Regions from separate parts of the Homo sapiens genome. Here region 2 is linked to region 1. Evidence: fine-mapped expression QTL. Tissue or cell type: fibroblasts. Region 1 holds a variant in brackets; the other region holds the start of a gene. All regions are shown on one strand. Distances are from middle to middle.

Region 1 (8,107 bases):
TCATAAGGCTCTACCATCCTGCCCTTAGAAGCCAGGCTTCAGAGAGCATTCAGCCCTTTGCCCGTCTGCCATATGAGGACACAGTGTTCAAGGCACCATCTGGCAACAGAAACCAGGCCCTCGTCAGACATCAAGTCTTGCTCTTGGACTTGCCAGCCTCCAGAACTGTGAAAATTTTTATTATTTATAAATGACCCAGTCTCAGGTGTTTTGGTATAGCATCACAAATGGACTAAGACAGAGATCACAGGCTTGAGGGCTTCATTACTGAAGGGTCTTGTTCCCTAAAGTTATTATTCTTTAAGAAACTTTATGGTGCGGTGGCCTCATGCAGCTTGGGTGCTTGACTTGGGGAAGTATGTTCACCATGTGGATGTTTGCTCTTCTTTTGGAGGATTCTTCTCTCCGATTATTACTAAGCTTTGGAATGTACTGGCTGCTCAAGGCTGAGAATGTTTGATTAACCAAATTGCTCACTCCAGGTTAATTGGATTTCAAGGAAATCAATTGGATTTAGGAGGGAAAATGTCAGAGGAAGACACGTGACCTACAATAAAGACAACATGAGGGACAGGGGCTCCCGCACAAACTGGTTCCTGGTCTGTGCAGACCACCTCCCGTTCCTGAGGCGGGGCAAGGCTTTGGCTTGGAGCTTCTACAATCTCTGTAAGCCATGACATGCGTAACCTAATTGTCAGCGGGAGAACTGAAGTTTTTTTCCCCTAAAACATTCATCATTTACAAAGTGGATTTGCTTTTTTTTTTTTTTTTTTGAGATAGGGTCTCACTTTGTTACCCAGGCTGAGGAGCAGTGGCACAGTCACAGCTCAACTGCAGCCGTGACTTCTCTGGCTCAAGTGATCTTCCCACCTCAGCCTCCCGCAAGTAGCTGGGACTACAGGTGTGAGCCACCGTGCCCAGCTAATTTTTGTATGTTTTTGTAGAGGTATGGTTTTGCCATGTTGTCCAGGCTGGTCTTGAACTCCTGGGCTCAAGCAATCTGCCCACCTCGGCCTCCCAAAGTGTTGGGATTACAGGCATGAGCCACTGCACCCAGCCTGGATTTGCATATTCTTAGTATAGTTGGACAATAATATTTGGAAACAGTCATTCCCACAGGAGATCTTTGAGCCTTATGTTCAATGAGGGGTCAGTTCTGACTCTGAAAGTGAGCAGAGCTCAGGGGGCCCAGGTGCTGGGGAGTGATGCCATCAGCACCAGGGCAGGCCTGTTGTTTCCAGCTGCATAGCGTGCCTGAGACAGAAAGACCCTTCCCAGTGTCTGTCCTGATTCCCTTCTTTCCAGACTGCATTTTGGTCTCTTTTCATCCACAAATAAACCCTTTTCCCCATCTCTGGGCCGGCATAGGACCCTCGGCCTCCCTGGGGAGAACTGCTTGTGTTTTACACACATGAGAGTCTGCGTTTGGGGCTTGTTCCTCCCTGCAAAGGATGCACATGGAGGCTGCTCAGTGGTTGCGGGAGGGAGGCCCCGCTCACTACCCACCTGCACTTCTCTGCCAAGGCACACCCAGGCCTCCTGGCCTCCGGATGAGAATTATGCTCATCGTTGCTGGTGGTATCCCTCAGAAAGCTCCCAACTGGTTCTGCTCTGAGAGTGGGGCCTTCTGATGAGGAGATGCCCGCAGTCTGCTGGTCAAACCCAGCTCTTCTCAGGGCAGCTGCCAGGGCAACAGCAATGACACCAGTTGAGAAGCTGAGATTTCCCAAGCACGATGGTAAATTCTGTATGTCAGTGTGACGGGGCCAAGGGATGGCCACAGACCTGGTAAAACACTGTTCCTGGGTGTGTCTGTGAGGGTGTTCTACGAGAGATGAGCATTTAAATTAGTAAAGAAGAGCCAGCCTCACCCGCAGGCAGGAGTCATCCAGTCCACTGAGGGCTCGAGGAGAACGAAAAGGCCGACGAAGGGCAAATCCTCCCACTTCCTGAGCTGGGACATTCATCTTCTTTGTCCCTTGAATCCTGTCTATCCAGGTTCCCAGGCCCTCAGAGCCCAGGACTTACAGAAGCACTGCCTTCTCGCACTGCCTTCTCCCCAGGCCTTCTTCAGACGCGGACTGGAAGTCACACCACCAGCTCCCCGGCTCTCAGCCTCCAGGCTCAGGCTGAACTGCAAGCACTGGCTTTCCTGGGTCTCCAGCTTGCGGCCCACAGATGCTGGCCTCCTCGGCCTCCAGAATTATGTGAGCCAATTCCCCTAAGTGCCCCCTAGTCTGTCTGTCTGTCTGTCTGTCTCTCTCTCTCTCTCTGTCCATCTATCCCATTGGTTCTGTTTCTCTGGAGAACCCTAATACATTGAGAGAGAGGACCCCAGAAGCAGACCAGACGCAGAGGGAAGAGGAAGCGGTCTGGCCTGGCTCAGAGATGGGATCTGGCTGGTTACGTGGGACTCCTTTCCGTCTCTGGAAATGCAATTTTTACAGGACTTGGGGGTGTTTGGGTGAGAGGTGAGGAAAAAGTTACGAACTCCCCAGGTCCAGAAATTTAGTCACACGCTGAACACTCAGTAAAGTAACTCAGTGAGTCAGCTTGGTGACAGGCCCCATGAGTGTGAAGCATGCAGAATTTTCCATGCAGATTAAAGCCCCTGTCGCCGAGGTTACACGGCAAAGCTCAACCCACTGCTGCTAGACCCATCTGCTGGCCTCTCTCCCATCTGCACCACGTGGCCCCTGGCTCCCGTCACCCCCCATACTCCTGAAAAGCTGCTACACATGCGCCGCCCCTGAGGGACCCATCAGGCTGAGAACAAGAACCAGCTCTTTCCATAACCGCACCACGCCTGGGTCTCTCTGCTGGCTTGGGGAGGGGACACAGGTTACATGTCAGAGGGTCCAGAGGCTTAGAGGTGGACACGGTACCCTGGAGAAGGGTGTAGGAAGGAACCATCTCAGGCCCAGGCCCAGTTTCTGTCCTGCCGCCGAAAGCGGGTTGACGCTGAGGAGTCTCTACCCTGTCGTCGGAGCATCAGTTTCCCATCCGTTAAGAGAGTTTGAGCTGCTGCCTCCAGATGTGTTCACCACTGAGAAAAGTGTTGCTACAGCCCATTGGAGGGTCAATAGCTTAATGCGGTGATTAACAAACACCGTGTAAAATGTTCTGAGAAATAAATAATATTGCTCATGATTTGCTTCTGGGGCTGAGAGGAGAAGCTTATCTGGGAAAAGCATCGCTGATGGTAAAGGCAGGATTCCGATCATTACCCCCCACACCTATGAGTCCTAGGCCTCTGCTAGGGGCTCAGGGAGCAGAGACAAGCACAGGTCCAGCTCTCAGGAGCCCACAAACACCCTGAGAAGAACAAGGTCTCAGAATGTCAGAGAGGTGGAGTGACCACAGCTTGGAGCTGCGCATACACACGGGCTGTGGGCAGTCAAGCCAGGCTGAAAAGGGGGCTTGGAGGCCATGCCGAGGAACATGACCCCCGTCCTGCAGTCCTGGGGAGCCCCGCCAAGGGGAGGTGGACTCCAGCGTTCCCGTGGGAACACTCTCTCATCTAACTCTCTCTCAGCCCTTGGTCAGCAAAGTTTCAATCTGCCTCCACCTCACTTAACCTTGTGTATGGCATTAAATTCCTCCAAGTCCAGTTTTTCTTGTCCCCAAAATGCAGGTAATAGGACCCACCTGATAGGGCTATTTTGAGGATTAAATGAGATGTTGAGGGGAAATGTTTAAGTCTCTTTTAATTCAGAGTGTTAAGTTTAGCCTAAAGCTGCCTCCTTACATGTTTTAAGTTCAGCCTAAAGAATTCTCCGTATACAGTGAACTGTAACCTAAATAGTTACAGCTATGGGTACAAGAGTAGGTTACAGCCTGTTTGTAGGATACAGCTTGGGCTCTGTCCTAGATGTGTAAACAGGCTGTAACCTACTCTTG[T/C]ACCAATCACTGAATTTCAGCCAATCAGAGGTGGCCAACTGCTCAAACCCTGTTCAAATAAGGCAAATGCCGAGATGTAACCAATTCAGCTGTTTCTGCATCTCACTTCCATTTTCTGTACGTCACTTTCCCTTTACTGTCCATAAATCTTCAACCACGAGGCAGCGCCCCAGCCTCTCTGAACCTTTCTGGTTTAGGGGCTGCCCCATTCGCAAATCATTCTTTGCTCAATTAAACTCTCTCAAATGTAATTTGTCTAAGGTTTTCTTTTAACAAGAGATAAATATGATAAAAGACTACATTTCTCCTGTAAGCACTGTGCATACCTTCCAAGCAGTAGGGTGCTTACCAGTAAGAACGAAAGAAACTGTCCAAGCAAATGCATTCCTGCAGCTTTTGTAGGTTTTATCAGTATTTTGTGAAAATGAGAATTCTGCTGCTGAAGTCTTTTTGTTGTTTCAGTTGCTTTTCAAACACTTTATATAATTGCACAAGGCATAAATCTATAAATAATATGCAAATACACAGCTTAAAATTGAACTTGATAAAAAGATTCAACAGTAAGTATATGAGGGACTTCTAGTAACCAAACTTTTCTTTTTTTTTTTTTTTTTTTGAGATGGAGTCTCGCTCTGTCACCCAGGCTAGAGTGCAGTGGCGCCATCTTGGCTCACTGCAACCTCCGCCTCCCAAGTTCAAGCAATTCTCCTGTCTCAGCCTCCTGAATAGCTGGGATTACATATGTGCACCACCATACCCAGCTAAGTTTCTGAATTTTTAGTAGAGATGGGGTTTCGCCATGTCAGCCAGGCTGATCTCGAAGCGATCCACCCGCCTCGGCCTCTTGAAGTGCTGGGATTACAGGCATGAGCCACTGCACCAGGCCAAGATTTTCTTAAAAGGGCATTTTATTCAAACTCGGAAACGGTTTATCTTGATGTTTACTCTACCAATTCACTTGATTATTTTATCATTTAGATTTGATTGTAAAAGAAAAAATCTCGTAGTAATAGTGGCTTAAACAAGATAGAAGTCGATATGTCTTTTACACTCAAGAAGTCTAGAGTTGGGATAGTTTTTGTGCCCACAGTGTCACCTTGTTCCAGAAAACTTTCTTTCCCCAATGTCATCTCAGGGCCCAAGATGCCCACTGGAGCTCCAGCTCTTCGATCTGTATTTCAGGAAGAAGGAAGAATGATGTCAGAGGTGTGCATCTCACTACATCCCCTTGGCTACAACTTAATCACACTCTCATGCCTGCCTGCGAAGGAAGCTGGGAAATGTAGTTCTTATTCCAAATGACCACGTACTTTGCTGAATATCAAGGATTCTTGTTCCAGAGTAATGAATATTGAGACCACCTCACTGACTCTATCCCTGTCATCTACTTCCTTAGAATTTTTAGTAAAATGATTCTTGGTAGCTTATTTTCTGAAGACTTGTATACAACACAATGTTTTTATTTTGTTACCTTCTATTCACAGGGAAGTTGTATTAACGCTTAACTCATTAAGTGAGTGACCACGTGTAACTCATGAGTTAAAGCACACAAAACTTACAACACTGTCTGAGAACATGTCCCATCAATGAGCTGTGGCCGGAAGGTCCAGAGGGAACATCTTCAGTTCTCACTGCTAGCCCCTCTGGGCCTGGGGGGCCAGTTGCACTTTACTTTGGCTCTCAAATTCCTGTGTGATCCTTTATTCCTTCCCTGCATGAACTTCTTCAGCAACTCTCCTCCATCCAGGAGCTGGAGGGGAAGGCACGTGAGAGCAGATGCAAAAAGGGAATGTAGATCACACAACTGTGGCAAAACCCTGTGCAGCACATCTGTTGAGCGTCTTCTCCCACCCCACCCTTCTGTCCCTTCTGATCCCCAGGAAGGACACAAGGAGGCTGGCCACCCAGCCTGCTGGGGCGTTACTCTGTTTGGAGCTGGCAGGGTGGGGGGTGCGACTCACTCACCGTCCTGGGTGGCCCTACTGCCACTCAGGGTGTCGAGTGAGACTCTGGCTTCCACCCGGCTTCCCACATTGACTCTGGGAATCCGGCACCTAGAACATCTACGAACTCAAAGCTGAACCTCTCCCAGCACATCAGGAATAGCTGGATCTATTAAAAAGTAGGAATGAAGTTTGGGAACAGATTTCCAAGGCCTTTCTATAGGGCTGTACATTTGCACATGAACCTTTTTTTTTTTTTTTTTAGACAGAGTTTTGCTCTTGTTGCCCAGGCTGGAGTGCAGTGGCACGATCTCAGCTCACTGCAACCTCCAACTCCTGGCTTCAAGCAATTCTCCTGCCTCAGCCTCCCAAGTAGCTGGGATTATAGGCACCCTCCACATCTGGCTAATTCTATATTTTTAGTAGAGATGGGGTTTCACCATGTTGGTCAGGCTGGTCTTGAACTCCTGATCCGCCCGCCTCAGCCTCCCACAGTGCTGGGATTACAGGTGTGAGCCACCGCGCCTGGCCACATGAACCTCTTCTAAGAAAATACTGACCTCCCAGACCCTCAGATTCCTGGGAGATCAGATGGTCTGTTTAATGCTGCAGTTGTATCTTTGAAGAAAAGCCTTATGCCAGCTTCTGTTCACTCCCATCTAGCCACTGAGCCATAGAATGATTAACATAATTATTGCCCTTAACAGAAACTGCAGTCCCGTGGGAGGGTGAGCAGAAGAAATGAGGTGTGACATCCCTGGGCTTCACTTTCTTGAGCTGAGTAATTACAGATCTTACCTTCTGTCCCACCAATACCTTCAGAACCAGGGTTTCTCCACAGTCCCTTTCAAACTGGCTTTTGCCTACTCAGCCTTCACGTTCTCAGGAATCTCCAGCCCAATTGCCAAAGCAAGCCCAGGCTCCCGACTCACGCAATCGTCGAGGACACTGCGCCTGCTGCTTTGCTCATCTCCCGCCCCGTATGAGCTCCCTGCCTTCCTGATCCCAAACAGAACCATCTTTAACCACGCCCTGGCGCACTCCATCTGAAACAAGGCTTCGCCAGAACTGTTAATAGCCTCACATCTCTTCAAAAGGTGGCTTCGGGTTGTGTGGGGATGAAAGGACACACGTGTGGTGTTTACTAGCATGTAGACATTTAGTGAACCTTTGTCCCCGATTCTGTCCCCTACCCCGAGGCTCTGAAAAGGAACCTATTTTCCCTGCCCTGCAACAGGGTGTTTTTCCTCCTCCTTCAATGTGTGCTTCCGAAGCCCACACATCCCTCCCGCTCTTGTCTGCCTACAGCTTGGACTTCTCCTCCTCCTTCCTCACTTCCGGGCTTGTCTTGCTTCTCCAGCCTCTTCACCATGCATGAGGGCATTCCTGATCACACTCCAGCTATGGGGGACCCCATTCCTGCAATCCAGCAGTTTCCAAACACGGGTGCACACTGGAGGCACCTGGAGAGCGTCTAACACCTCCTGCTGCTTGGGCTTTATTCTAGAAACCAATTCAGGGGACTCTCTGGGGGTGGGGCCTGAGCTACTTCATTTTAGAAGCACATTACGTGGTTCTGATGTATAGCCAGGTTCTTAGTTCCTGGGCAAATCTATTTCACTTTGGTACTATGGTGAAAACGTGTATGAAACAGTGCTTGCCCAATTATTTTCCTTAATCTTGACACAAGTGGTCACTTCATGGAACCATCACCATAATCCCGTTTTAGAACAGTTCTCAAAGAATTTCTGTATACTCACATCAAGATTTGGAGAACAATCATCACCAAATTCTAACCTCTCAACTAGTGTGAATCTCCTACGAGGTGGCTGATGAATTTCATTAGTCTAGGCCTCAGTGCTTATGCTCGTCCATGCCTTTTAATTTTGTTCTGGTTCTGCCACTCACTAGCATGTGACCCTGACAAATCATTTCACCTCACCAGAGTCTGTTTCCTCACCAGAAAAATGGAACAATAGGAATGTCCACTCCTCAGGGTTATGAGGAATGGAGATCAGAGACGGGGAGCCCAAATGCCTTTCAGCCAGATCTTTCAAGGAGACAGAGGTGTGTGGGCAGAGCCTTCCCACCACCAGCCCACATGCTACTAAGAGACAAGTCTGGGTTTCAGTCAACTTAGCCTAAACTTCAGGCTGAGTTGGGAATGAAGTTTGGGAACTTTGGGAATGAAGTTTGGGAACAGATTTCCAAAGCCTTTCTGCAGGGCACTGCATTTGCACATGAACCTCTTCTCAGTAAATACC
Region 2 (8,107 bases), 40 kb after region 1:
GGGCTCAACCTGTCTCTAGATTTACAGTCTAATGCTTGCTCTGCCATTTTACCCTCATACTTATGTTCATCAATCATTGATGAAAAAGAAAAGAAAAAAAAAATGACTGGAATAAGGGCACCTTACTGGTAAGAAAGAACCAAACCTCAAACCCGTACCTTCTATGTCATGGTGTTCTGGGTATCAGCAATAACAACAGTCACCCTTTTACTGAGCATTTACTCATGTTAATTACTGGGTGTATTAGAGTTCTTCAGAGAAACAGAACCAATGGCATATATTTACATCTAGAAAGGGATTTGTTATAAGGTATTAGCTCATGCAGTTATGGAGGCTGAGAAGTCCCATGATCTGCTGTCTGCAAGCTGGAGACTTGTTAGCAGGAAGGCTGGTGTTGTAGCCTGAAGGCCTGAGAGCCAAGGGTGTAGGTTCCAGCCTGAGTGTGAAGGCCTCAGCACCAGGAGCACCAAGGGCAGAAGATATCCCAGATCAAGCATGCAGGAGGAGACAGGACACATTCTTCCTTCTTTGGCTTTTTGTTCTATTTAGGCCCTCAACAGACTGGATGCTGCCCACCTACTTTGGGGAGGGCAATCCACTTTACTCAGTCTATCCATTCAAATGCTCATCTTTTCTGAAAACAACTTCACAGACACACCAAGAAATAATGTTTAACCAGATATCTGGGCATCCGTGATCCAGTCAAGATGACATGTAAAAGTAACTATCACACTGGGCTAAGCATTTTACATGCAAGACTGCAATCCTCACTTAAACCTGCAAGGTAGGTGGTGTTAGCCTTATTTGCAGGAGGTGAAACCAAGTCCCTGGGAGGTTTGAGTAACTTGTCCCAGGTCACACAGCACAGTAAGTGGGAGAGATGGAATTTGGATCCTGGTCTGAAGCCCATGCTCAGTCTCCTAACCACTTGCTACCATCCCTCTGCCTCATTAAGATAAATTCTGAGCTAAAGATGAACACTGAACGAGTGGTAAGCAATCTACTACCTGCTGAGTTCAGTTCCCTAGGGTCAGTACTGTATTTACTTTCACATTCACTATTCTAATTCACACTTTGACCATGAGCTCAACACTGGGAACTAATCTGAGGGCATAAAGTAAGGCTTTTTCCCCTACTTGTCTTACAAAAGTGATCCTGTTTACTGTGAAAGATTTGCAAACTACAAAAAAGTATAGTTCCTCAAAAAAATAAACATAGAATTACCATATGATCTAGCAATTCCCCTGCTACATATATACCCCAAAGAATTGAAAGCAGGGACTCGAACAGATATTTGATACTCATGTTCATAGCAACATTATTTACAACAGCTAAAATGTAGAAGTAACCAAAATGTTTACCGACAGATAAGTAGATAAACAAAATGTGGTCTATACATGCAATGGAGTATTATTCAGCCTTAACAAGGAAGGAAATCCTAATGCATGCTACAGCATGGGATAAACTTTGAAGACATCATGCTGAATGAAATAGTCACAAAAGGAAGAATATTGTGTTACTCCACTTACATGAGGTTTCTAGAATAGTCAAATTAATAAAGATGGAAAGTAGAAAGGTCATGGAGGGAAAATAAGGGAGTTGTTTAACTACAGTTTCAATTTTGCTAGATGAAAAGAGTTCTGCCAATGGATAGTGGTGGTGATGGTTGCACAATGTGAATGCACTTCATGCCACTGAACTGTATCTTTAAAAATAGTTAAGATGGTAAAATGTATGTTATGTATCTTTTACCACCATAAAAAAAGTATAAAGAAACAGGAAAAAAAATTGGCTATGGTATCTCAGTGCAACTCTGTTGATATGTTCACATGGTCTTTCTGAGTCTTTTTTCTAATCTTAGCCTTTTGATGGGTCTTTTTTGACAGCTTCCTCTCTTCTCCATTACAGGAACATGTTTTTGCAGTTGTGCGACCCAAAGAGGCCATTTCAAGCTGCCCCATCAGATGTGGAGCGCTGATGTGTAAGTATTACTTTAATATCCATGACATGGCTGGGTAGACAAGAGACTCCCAGGAAAGACCGAAATCACAGAACACGATTATGGGCAATCTGGGCTCCTGGGGACCTTTAGGGCACGCCATCTCGTACTGATGAAGGATCACTGATTTATCAGATGTTACCCTGCTTAAACAGAAGCAGCCTATTAGCGCAGCTCACACCATTCCTAGAATCAAACATATCCAACCCACCCCCCTCATTTTACAGAGAAAAATCAATTGAGAACCGCAGATCTTATTCCTAGAAAGCTGATGAACCCTGTTTCTCTCGCAATGGGAAGACCTGGCTGCCCCAGGCTGCATCCCCACCTGCCACAGGGGCTGGCGCTCGCTCTGCAGTTGGCCGCAGTCCCCTCCACTCTTCTCTCCAAATAGGCTCGGGTCTTTAACCTAGACTACCCCACTGGCCCCGAAGCATTTTTTTTTTTTTTTAGATAGGGTCTACCTCTGTCGCCCAGGCTGGAGTGTGGAGTGCGGTGGCGCGATCTCGGCTCACTGCAACCTCCGTCTCCTGGGGGCATGCGATTCTCCTGCCTTAGCCTCCTGAGTAGCTGGGACTACAGGCGCGCACCACCACACCTGGCTAGTTTTTGTATTTTTAGTAGAGATGGGATTTCGCCATGTTGGGCAGGCTGGTCTCGAACTCCTGACCTCAAGTGATCCACCCATCTCGGCCTCCCAAAGTGCTGGGATTACAGGTGTCCGCCACCACGCCCGGCTAATTTTTGTACTTTTAGCAGAGATGAGGTTTTGCCATGTTGGCCAGGCTGGTCTCGAACTCCTGACCTCTGGTGATCCACCCGCTTTGACCTCCCTAAGTGCTGGGATTACAGGCGCGAGACACCGGGCCCGGCCCCCCGCCGAAGCATTTTTAACTGCGGTGCCGGCTTTAAAAAAACTTTTAGGTCAAGAAATGCGCTCCAGAAGCTCGGCGAGGGTAGGCTGGGCAGGCGCCTTCCGTCACCGGCGCAGCGGTAGCGGCAGCGGACATCCCCGCCTGGGCAGGCCCAGGTCCGCGGAAGCCTCGGGGCCCTGGCCCCACTGTGTCACACACCGCCCGGGGCCGGGCCCCTGCACGCCCGCGGGCTTCGGCGTCCGTACCGGTACAGCGGGCGGCGACACCTACCTCGCGGGACCGTGCCCAGCACCCGGCCTGGCACACAGCGGGCACCCGGTCGGGGGGCGGTGTCGCGCAGTCCCAGCGAAAAGGCTGCAGGAGCAATGACAACAGGGGCGGAAGCCCCCTCCCCACGCAGCCCGAGGGGCCGCGGCGGCCACCCGCGCCGGGCCCCAGGACCCCGCACCTCAGACTGGGGTCGCGTGGGTGGCTGCGCGCAGCTAGGCGCTCGCGCATGCGCACCGCCATCCAGGCCACGGAATGAGGCCAGAGGTTAGATGGGTTGAACCACTACGGGAAGGGGAGGGGAAGCTTTGGGAGGAGTGATGGAGGGTGGAAAGCGGAAGAAAAAAGCAAGATGGGACCGCAAGCTGGACGTGACTGTAAGGGGTCATGGCTGCGGAATCCAGCAGGGGCATTGGGGTTGACGTGCACTCAGCGCCGAGCTTCTTCGTAGTTCCTCACCCCCTTGGCTACTATGGGCTGGTCCGGAAGGTCAGGCAAGGGGAAGCTGCGCAGGCGCAGTGTGAGCGGCAACATGGCGTCCAGGTCTAAGCGGCGTGCCGTGGAAAGTGGGGTTCCGCAGCCGCCGGATCCCCCAGTCCAGCGCGACGAGGAAGAGGAAAAAGAAGTCGAAAATGAGGATGAAGACGATGATGACAGTGACAAGGAAAAGGATGAAGAGGACGAGGTCATTGACGAGGTGAGAAGGACACGCTCCCCTAGTTGGTTTATACCTGAGAAAAACTTTTTGGCAAGCCCAGGCTGTGTAAAAATAGTGTAGGGTCTTCCCTGACCCTGAGGGTCTGTGAGGAGAAACTGGAGATAAGTTCTTTCTCAGGTTTCTCCTCGGTCTTTAACACACTGCAGCCATAGTAGTTATTTTTTAAAGGTCTAGTCCGGTCCAGTTAATCTCCCAACCCGCGTCCTCCCCGAAAAAGCCCGCCACAACAGGTGTGTTCTTCTCGTCCTCTTTAGTTCTCAGGCTGAAGCCTCAGATCCTGAATCGGCCACCCCGGGCTCGCAGAGGGGGCCCTCTCCCCTCGGGGCAGCAGCTGTCCTCCTCTTCACTCTGCGGGCGGCACTCACTTGGGCCCTCAGTTTCTTGAAGGCTCTTGCCGCGTTCTACCGTAGAAGCCTTTTCAAATGCTCTTCTTTATCCTGCAGTTTTCCCTTCCTTCTTCAGATCTCAGCTAGGCTGTATTTTCTGGCTCCTGGGGCAGCTGACCAAGTCGTGGGTAAATCTTTGGTTTCATAGTCTCATAGAACTGTGTTCCTTTCTTCAGACTAGGTCCTACCGTAGTGCCTGGCAATATAGGTACTTATTATTTGTTTAGTAAACAATTAGGACTGAATGATCCTTCAGCCTACTGAATGTTTAAATAGATACCTCAGCCTTAACTTGTCCAAAGCAGAATTTGTATAATAATTCATGCCCCTCTCTTAATCGTCACCATTTCTATAAATGGCCCCTAAAGTCACCAGCTGCTCTAACCCAAAACCTGGGGCTTAACTTTAATTCCTCCCTTTCCTCATCCTATATCCAGCCCATCAGTAAATCCTGTTATCCAGACATTTCTCAGCACTAATTCTGAGACCATCGTAGTCCACACCTCTATCATCTCTTGCCTGGACTACTATTTAATGTAACAGCTTTTAACCGGCGTTCTTTTCTCCATTTTTGTTCCCCTACAATCAGTCTATACTCCACTTACAGTCAGAGAGATCTTATAGGTCTGATCTCAGGCCTCTGCTTAGATTGCTGCATTGGCTTTCTAGTTCATTTACAAGAAAATCAAGAGTCTTCACAATTGAGGGACGGAAAGGCAGCCTAGATGGCTGGATCAGAATAAGGAAGAGAGAGTGATAGGAAATAAAATCAGAGAGGTAATCATGAGTCATGATGAGCATGGAGGGGAGCATGGAGAGAAGCATGGATGCAGGATTAGAGGTGACACCATGGTGTGGGTATGTGATCAATCTTCCTTCCCTTACAAATTTTACTTTGGCTCTATGCCTTGAATGCCATCTCACCATTTTTCACTTAGAACTTTGACTGGCTCTTTTATTACTTTTGGGTTATAGAAATCAATGCTGCTTGTGTTAACATGGGAAATCTATCACACCACCACAGTCTTAATTCTAAATCACCTGGGAATGAGGGACAGGGCTCTTTTCTACAAACGTGACTGTTCCTGCTGAAGCCATGTGGAGATGAGCCCATACCCAGGAAAAGGGTGCTGGACAGATAATCCATTTGCCGCCCATTTCCCTGGTGGTGCCATAATAGTCTGGGACAGAGGTCCGAGATGTCTGTCTAGACAAAGAAAAAAACACTAGATGAGCATTATTTACAGAATGTATTTATATCTAAGGAATAAGTTTAAGTCCTGAATAATGACAGTTTGTTATTTGGTTTAGTTTGATCCTGTTTGGAACACTCCCACCCGACCCCTTGTGTTTTGCTGCTCACATAATCTGGCTAAGTTAGCATTTGAAGTCTGCAAAGCTGGACTTAAAGAGTTCAAATTGGAGCTGGAATTGCTCTAAGCAATTCCAGGGCCTTGCAATTTTACAATTAAGGAAGACTTAAATATATACATAGTCAGGGTGGCAAGGTAAAAGGAGGTCTGATTTCCTCTGCGATGTTCTTCAGCTAAGACCTAAATTCTGAAACCGTTAAAACCTGAAGTGCCTTTAAATATATTATTTCATCAGAGCCCCAGGTTCATTGTGTCACTTATCAAGGTCTGATTTAGGGTCCTCAAGGACTAATCTTGTTAGTGTTTAAAAGCAACTAGGTTTTGTTTTTGGCATTTTAGTTCCATCTTCTAGATTCTGTTGTCTTGCAGATAGAGATCAGGGAGCCCAGCTACACATTCATTCTTCTAGTCCCTTGTACTCATTGTATTTCCTTCTGCCTTAGGGCCTTAGTTTGTGCTGTTCCCTGTACCAGGAACTCTCTTTGCTGTTTCTCGGTTTCTTGCTCAAATGTCACTTCAAGGAAGGCTTTCCTGACTGACTTCTTATTTTTTAAGTTGTTACAACATTGTGTACCTTTGTTTTATAGCACTTACATTTATTTCTATGAATATTTCCTTAATGCCTATATTCCTTCCTAAATCGTAAGCTGCACGAGAGCAGGATCATTTGTGTCTGCCTTACTAACCTTTTCATCTTGAGTGCCTGGCACAGTGCTTGGTACCTGGATTGATACTTAATAAATATTTGCTAAGCAAATGTAGTGTAACCTCAAATCCATGGGCTAAGTCAAGCTCTAGGCAATTCCAGGGACTTTTGAAGTGATTTTGATTTTTGCCCACCCTTGTAATCAGGAAAATAATTTATCCTTTGTGGCTGCCGTGTCTGGTTTATTTGAACTGGACTTTCTCAACATTTAAACTAGGTTACTCTGAGTGTTTTGTTTTCTCAGGCTTTTGTGTCACCTGAAGAAATAGTGTGAAGGTGCTTTGTATTCTTCACAGATGGCAATCTTGGCAATGTTTGCCTGTTTTAAAGTCTAGATGTTTGTAGTTTTTCTGGTAACAACTATTTTGTGTGTTATTTACAGGAAGTGAATATTGAATTTGAAGCTTATTCCCTATCAGATAATGATTATGACGGAATTAAGAAATTACTGCAGCAGGTATTGTCTTTTATTTATTATGCATAAATTTCCTCTTCTAAGAAAAATCAGGGGCCGGGTGCAGTGGTTCATGCCTATAATCTCAGCATTTTGGAAGGCCGAGGTGAGAGGATTGCTTGAGCCCAGGAGTTTGAGACCAGCCTGGGCAACATAATGAGAACCTGTCTCTACAAAAAAATTAAAAATTAGCCAACTGTGGTAGCACACACCGTTAGTCCTAACTCCTCAGGAGGCTGAGGCTGGAGGATTACTTGAGTCTAAGAGCTCAAGGCTGCAGCTATGAATGTGCCATTGAGCTCCAGTCTGGGCAACAGAGTGAGCCTCTGTCTCTAAAAAAAAAGAAAATTCAGGTCATTCAATACAGGCTCTCCCAAGTTCATCTTTTTAGAATTTCCATTTCTATCCTCTCCACCTTGCCTGGAAGGAAGAATTATTTCCTTTCATCTGCTAATTAGAGTTATTTTGTTTTTTTTTTTAATTCACAATTCTTATGTAACAGTCATATAACTGTGCTGTTTGGTGCTATAAAATTGATGCTTGCTGCTTCTCCTTATTCTTTTACTCATATAATATGACTTTGGTTCTTTAGCCTTTATAGCTCTACCGTCTTTTTCACCAAATTCTTTGGCCTTAAGTTTATCCTCTCTCGTTTCTCCCTTTTTTCTCCCCCTCCCCCATTACTTCTATATTACTACTGACTTCTTCTTTTCTGAAATTTCCTAATCTTTAGCTTCTTTGACTCTCCTGGGCTTTTCTTTCCCTCTTGGGGTTGCTTTTCTAGATCATCATCTTAAGTCACAGAAATTTCATTGTTTGTATTTGAATATAGGATTTGAAGTTATTAGAAATCATGCTTTGATCTTAATTTAAAATAATTTTTTCCTCCTTTTAGCTTTTTCTAAAGGCTCCTGTGAACACTGCAGAACTAACAGATCTCTTAATTCAACAGAACCATATTGGGAGTGTGATTAAGGTAAGTAGGATAATTGTGTTTATTCTGATTAAATGAGTTCTTTATTCTGTTCATGCTGGGCCTCACCATGCTTGTAATCCCAGCACTTTGGGAAGCAAAGGTGGGAGGATTGCTTGAGGCCAGGAGTTCAAGACCATCCTGGGCAATATAGCAATACTCTGTCTCTACAAAAAATAACAAAAAATTAGCCGGGCATAGTAGCACATGCCTGTAGTCTTTTTACCCAGGTGGCTGAGGTAGGAGGATCTCTTGAGCCAAGAAGTTGAAGGCCATGGTGAGCTTTGTGCCGCTGCACTCTAGCCGGGCAACACAGCAAGACCCTATATCTGAAAAAAAAAAAAAAAAAAAAAAAA

Evidence for each region. PIP is the estimated chance that this variant, and not a neighbour inherited with it, causes the effect.
Region 2: UROS starts here. The variant in region 1 is fine-mapped to the expression of UROS in fibroblasts (GTEx, PIP 0.92).

Annotation. Positions count from the first base shown.
Region 1 is chr10:125,780,190-125,788,296 of GRCh38, forward strand. It overlaps a transcript of UROS not described here. Among named protein-coding and RNA genes, the nearest start is that of MMP21, 8.4 kb to the left of the region's middle. RefSeq lists a silencer at 3,779-3,838. The variant T/C (reference allele first, on the strand shown) is at 3,901.
Region 2 is chr10:125,819,885-125,827,991 of GRCh38, forward strand. It overlaps UROS (uroporphyrinogen III synthase), which reads right to left and starts at 3,374. Exons shown (of 10, transcript NM_000375.3): 1 at 3,145-3,374. It overlaps BCCIP (BRCA2 and CDKN1A interacting protein), which reads left to right and starts at 3,662. Exons shown (of 7, transcript NM_078468.3): 1 at 3,662-3,838; 2 at 6,707-6,781; 3 at 7,674-7,754. The coding sequence starts at 3,674. RefSeq lists silencers at 3,021-3,450, 4,207-4,426 and enhancers at 3,302-3,987, 3,531-3,730.